Linked DNA regions of Homo sapiens: region 2 is linked to region 1. A link means that fine-mapping ties the variant in region 1 to the expression of a gene that starts in the linked region. Tissue or cell type: whole blood. Region 1 holds a variant in brackets; the other region holds the start of a gene. All regions are shown on one strand. Distances are between the middles of the regions.

Region 1 (2,838 bases):
CACCCAAAAGCCCCCTTTGTTACTTAGGCAATTCCCCTTCCCTGACTCCCGAGGGCTAGGGCTAGAGCAGACCCGGGTAAGTAAAGGCAGACCCAGGGCTCCTCTAGCCTCATACCCGTGCCCTCACAGAGCCATGCCCCGGCACCTCTGCCCTGTGTCTTTCATACCTCTACATGTCTGCTTGAGATATTTCCTCAGCCTGAAAGTTTCCCCAACCATCTGCCAGAGAACTCCTATGCATCCCTTAGAACCCTGCTCAGACACCATTACTTTTGTGAACGCTTCTGCCACATCTTGTCTTCCCCAAAATTGATCACTCCGCCTTCTCCTGGGCTCCCGTAGCACACTATAACATCTGCTGGAGTGTTGCTGTTGCACCATACTTTCTTGTACATTTGTGTCTCCCTTCCCAACTAGACTGTAAGTGCCTTGCGGTCAGGGACTGAATCTTGCCCGTTTATGTATGCTCCATGTCTAGCCCATCATCCTGCTTGGAGCAAGTAGGCAGGAGCTCAATAAATGTTTGTTGCATGAAGGAATGTCTGGAGAGCTGGATGGGGCATCATGAAGAGGGTAGGGGGTGGATACAAGTCATCACCCAAGCTTCTGGGAGGTCCTGGGGCTGGGAGAGGGTACAGACTCCCATGCCCCTTGGCTGCACCATGGAAGTGACCATTCTTCACGGGGTCTTAAGAGGGACAAACGTTCTGGTGAATTCCTCCATGGGTGTTGCTGAGCGTCTGCTATGTGCCCATGGCCATGTTAGGGTGGAAGGGGGAAGACATGATGCCACCCCTTCAGGGGACCTACCTCACAGTGTTTGGGGAGACTTGCCCTCTCCACTGTCTGAACCTCCTTTTCCTTCTCTGCTTTAGTCACCATCATCACTAACCTCCCCATCCCCCACTCCACTTGCTGAGTCCCACTTACCACCTGGCGGCAATGAACCCTCATCTGCCTGCCTCCCATCAGCTGTCTGGTGGTGGTGGAGGATGATGAGGCTCAGGCCAGTTTCTCCTGGAAATGCAAAGCCTTATATGGTCTTATTGGTACATGATTGCAGAGAGGGGCACAGGGAATCCTCCCAGCTTTAGTAAAGGAGAGACTGAGGTCCAGGGAGGGGCTGAAGGATGTGCGAGTGGAACTCCAGCTCTCCGATCCTTGTTTCTCCCCCACTCCAGCATAAGACCTGGAATCCAGAAGTGACCCTTTCTCACCATCTTTGGGGATTCTGTCCCTGCCACCTTAGTCTTATTCATCTTAATTGCAGTCTCCCTGTTCTGAGGAGCCAAAGGAGGAAGAGACTTTCGGGGAAAGAGGAGAAGGAGCTGGTGACAGGGGTAGGAAGGTAGACAGGGTCATGACCTGAAACGGTGTGACGACTGCTGACTTCCCTTTCCTGGACTTGAGCTGATGAAGGGGAAATGGTGTTGCAGTCTCCTCTGTCAG[A/C]GCCCTCAGGTGCAGACGGCACTTGTCTGCCCCCTCAGCCTCAGCCTTGGCCCACCTGGTCCCCAGTGCCCTCTCCTCTGGCTGGGGCAGGAGGACCTGCCGGACATAGCCAGATGTATTACGGATGACTGCAGTCAGCTCCCCCAGGCTCCTGCTTCTCTTGCCTCCTGCTTTTTTCCCCAGAGCTGTCTCCTTATCTCCATTCACTTGTCTATGGGTTACTCCTGGACCCTGGGGTTAGGAGTTGGAATCAGGCTGTTAGCGATAAAAGGGTTCAAGTTGACTCATTTTCCTTATCAGGCTTAGTAGTTGAAGTGACTTGCTGAGCTTCATAATTCTTAGAGAACCTGCCATGAACCCAGCTCCCTTTCTATGACTCACCCTGCCACCCTGTGACACATAGAGTCTGAATGGCAGGTCTGGGGCTAGAACCCACGTCATCTGGACTTGGAGTCCAGTGACCCTTTGGGTTAAGCATGTGTGTGTGTGTGTGTGTGCCATGATGCGGGAGGAAGGTCCCTGCTCTCTGTAGCTGTTTTCTTCATCCTTTGCTCTACAAGCCCTAACAGCCGATTCTGTCATCCCTAGTCTGCCCCTCTCCTGTTTCTCCATCTCCTCTGACCATGATTTTTTTCTGTCCCTGGAGGGATGATGGTCTCATTCTCACCTCCTCCACGAAACGTGTTAGCTTTTCATATTCCTAGATCCACTCACTTCTCATCATCTTTTTTTTTAAACAAAATTTTATTGAAAAATGTAATATGACGTGTCAAAGTTGTAAAGTTATTGAGTAAATAAGCATGTATCCTAAATATTGAAAAATATTCTCCTTTTGTACCAGGCTATGTGTCACGGCTTTGGCGCTTTGCACAGACTATTAGAAATACCTTATAACATTAAAAATAGGACATTGAGGCCGGGCGTGGTGGCTCATGCCTGTAATCCCAGCACTTTGGGAGGCCAGGGTGGGTGGATCACCTGAAGTCAGGAGTTTGAGACCAGCCTGGCTAACACGGTGAAACCCCGTCTCTACTAAATACAAAAAATTAGCCGGGCATGATGGCACATGCCTATAATCCTAGCTACTCGGGAGGCTGAGGCAGGAGAATTGCTTGAATCCGGGAGTCAGAGGTTGCAGTGAGCCGAGATTGTGCCACTGCACTTCAGCCTGGGCAACAAGAGTGAAACTCTATCAAAAAAAAAAATAGGACATTGAAGTTGGTTTCTTTTTTTGATACAGAGTCTCGCTCTGTCACCCAGGCTGGAGTGCACTGGCAGGATCTCGGCTCACTGCAACCTCTGCCTCCTGGGTTCAAGCAATTCTCCTGCCTCAGCCTCCTGAGTAGCTGGGATTACAGGCACGCGCCACCACGCCTGGCTAATTTTGTA
Region 2 (2,500 bases), 29 kb before region 1:
CACTTGGCACTCCACTCCTTATCCTTTTGCTGCATTAAGTTTGGAAAGAGATTTTGGAGAAAATATAGCCCATCAACGAATTTCTCCTCCTCCCAGGGCCTGTCTAGGCGTGTGCCATGCCCACCCTCTTCCTTTCCAGCGCTGGCCACATCCTCCCTGCACCTTCAGTGCCTGCTTTCCCTGCCTCTTCCTGGGCTCCGGGTCTGTGTCCACAGTGTCCTGCGTGGCCCTCGCGCTGCCTCTGGTTGCCCACATTCCTGCAACTCTGTGACCACAGCAGGGGCGATTACACATTCCTGGCCTGGCAGCCAACAGTGTAAAAAAGAACAGAATGTCCTAGGGCCCCGCCTAGCCCCCAGCTTCACCTGGGCCCCTCCCGGGTCTGGACAAGGTTGGAGGGGGTGGCGAGGAATCAGCAGGAAAGAGGAGGGACCAGGAGGAGGCAGACGCATCCCACCTGAGTGCGCTGCTCCCACTTAGTGAGCGGGGAGGAGACCTGCAGAGACCTCTTCTCTCTTCTCTGCAGGGCCTGAGGGTGAGGCTGACCTGTGGGTGCCCTTGGAGGGCTGCCCACTTGCTGAGCCTCTAGCTCCTGGAAGCACACTTGGGACTCCCCCCTTGCTCTCCTTCCTGGAGACAGACTCCCTTTGGTGCTGGCTCCTTCTATTTGCCCCCACCACTGCCCCCCACCTGCCTCTACTCACTCAGTGCCCCTCCTCCATCCCTATCTCTCTGTCCTTCGCTGTCCCTCTCTATTGTCTCCCTCTTTCTGCCCTCCTGTCCTCCCGGTTCCCCACCCAGGCCCTCTCAGCCTGGCTGGCCCCTTCTCCTTGTGTTGCCCTCCTAGCTGTGGGCTCAGGATCCTTCTACTTGTTCAGATCTTTGCCCCTCACCTGCCATCCTGTCCCCCAGCCTCCTTGCCTGTCTGCGTCTAAAGCCCCTGCCCAGAGTCCGCCTTCTCAGGTCCAGTACTCCCAGTTCACCTGCCCTCGGGAGCCCTCCTTCCTTCGGAAAACTCCCGGCTCTGACTCCTCCTCAGCCCCTCCCCCCGCCCTGCTCACCTTTAATTGAGATGCTAATGAGATTCCTGTCGCTTCCATCCCTGGCCGGCCAGCGGGCGGGCTCCCCAGCCAGGCCGCTGCACCTGTCAGGTGAGGGGGAGGAGAGGTTTGGCTGCCAGATTCAACTGGAAAGGAACCAGTCCCAGTCCAGCCGCAACCTGGGAGTGGGAAGCTGGAGGCAGCCCAGACCTCCTGGAGCCCTGCAGTCCTGGGGCAGAGACAGAATCAGGACACAGCTCGAGGTCAGGGCCAGAGGCTGGAGCTGAGGGCCTAGAGTGAGAGGGGGCAAGGCAAGGGGGGGAGAGGAAGAGAGGCAGGATTAGAGAGAGGAGGCAGGCCAGAAAGAGGAGAGCAGGAGAGACCCAAAGAGAAACAGAAGGCAGATAGAGAGGGAGTGAGAGGCAGGAGCTGAGACACAGATCCTGGAGGAAGAAGACCAAAGGAAGGGGGCAGAGACAGAAAGGGAGGTGCTAGGACAAAACTCGAAAGGTGGCCCTATCAGGGAAGCAGAGGAGAGGCCGTTCTAGGGAAGCCCAGCTCCGGCACTTTTGGCCCCAACTCCCGCAGGTCTGCTGGCTCCAGGAAAGGTGGAGGAGGGAGGGAGGAGTGGGAGAATGTGGGCGCAGGGTGGGACATGGGCATGGCCAGGGGCAGCCTCACTCGGGTTCCAGGGGTGATGGGAGAGGGCACTCAGGGCCCAGAGCTCAGCCTTGACCCTGACCCTTGCTCTCCCCAATCCACTCCGGGGCTCATGAAGGGGAACAAGCTGGAGGAGCAGGACCCTAGACCTCTGCAGCCCATACCAGGTCTCATGGAGGGGAACAAGCTGGAGGAGCAGGACTCTAGCCCTCCACAGTCCACTCCAGGGCTCATGAAGGGGAACAAGCGTGAGGAGCAGGGGCTGGGCCCCGAACCTGCGGCGCCCCAGCAGCCCACGGCGGAGGAGGAGGCCCTGATCGAGTTCCACCGCTCCTACCGAGAGCTCTTCGAGTTCTTCTGCAACAACACCACCATCCACGGCGCCATCCGCCTGGTGTGCTCCCAGCACAACCGCATGAAGACGGCCTTCTGGGCAGTGCTGTGGCTCTGCACCTTTGGCATGATGTACTGGCAATTCGGCCTGCTTTTCGGAGAGTACTTCAGCTACCCCGTCAGCCTCAACATCAACCTCAACTCGGACAAGCTCGTCTTCCCCGCAGTGACCATCTGCACCCTCAATCCCTACAGGTCGGTTAGTCCCTCTGCCCCTTCCCTGGTGCCTGCGCCTGGAAGGGTGGTCCAGGGTGCTGAGGTGCTCACTGGGCAGGCAGAGCCTCAGACCTGAGGGTGGGAACTGACACCCCTGTCCCAGGTAGAGCTCACTGCTGGCAAAATGAGGAGCCTCCAGCTTACTGGACTGGCGTCCCTGCCCAGTGGAGCCATCCTAGCACCCCAGGCTC

What was found. PIP is the estimated chance that this variant, and not a neighbour inherited with it, causes the effect.
Region 2: SCNN1A starts here. The variant in region 1 is fine-mapped to the expression of SCNN1A in whole blood (TOPMed, PIP above 0.99).

What each region holds. Positions count from the first base shown.
Region 1 is chr12:6,344,544-6,347,381 of GRCh38, reverse strand. SCNN1A (sodium channel epithelial 1 subunit alpha) reads left to right here. Exons shown (of 13, transcript NM_001038.6): 13 at 1-535. LOC112268088 (a long non-coding RNA gene) reads right to left here and starts at 1,578. Exons shown (of 2, transcript XR_002957396.2): 1 at 1,366-1,578; 2 at 304-1,017. It also overlaps the pseudogene RN7SL391P. RefSeq lists an enhancer at 1,005-1,505. The variant A/C (reference allele first, on the strand shown) is at 1,450.
Region 2 is chr12:6,374,156-6,376,655 of GRCh38, reverse strand. It overlaps SCNN1A (sodium channel epithelial 1 subunit alpha), which reads left to right and starts at 1,093. Exons shown (of 13, transcript NM_001038.6): 1 at 1,093-1,151; 2 at 1,819-2,288. The coding sequence starts at 1,873. It also overlaps a transcript of LTBR not described here. RefSeq lists enhancers at 1-265, 2,082-2,500.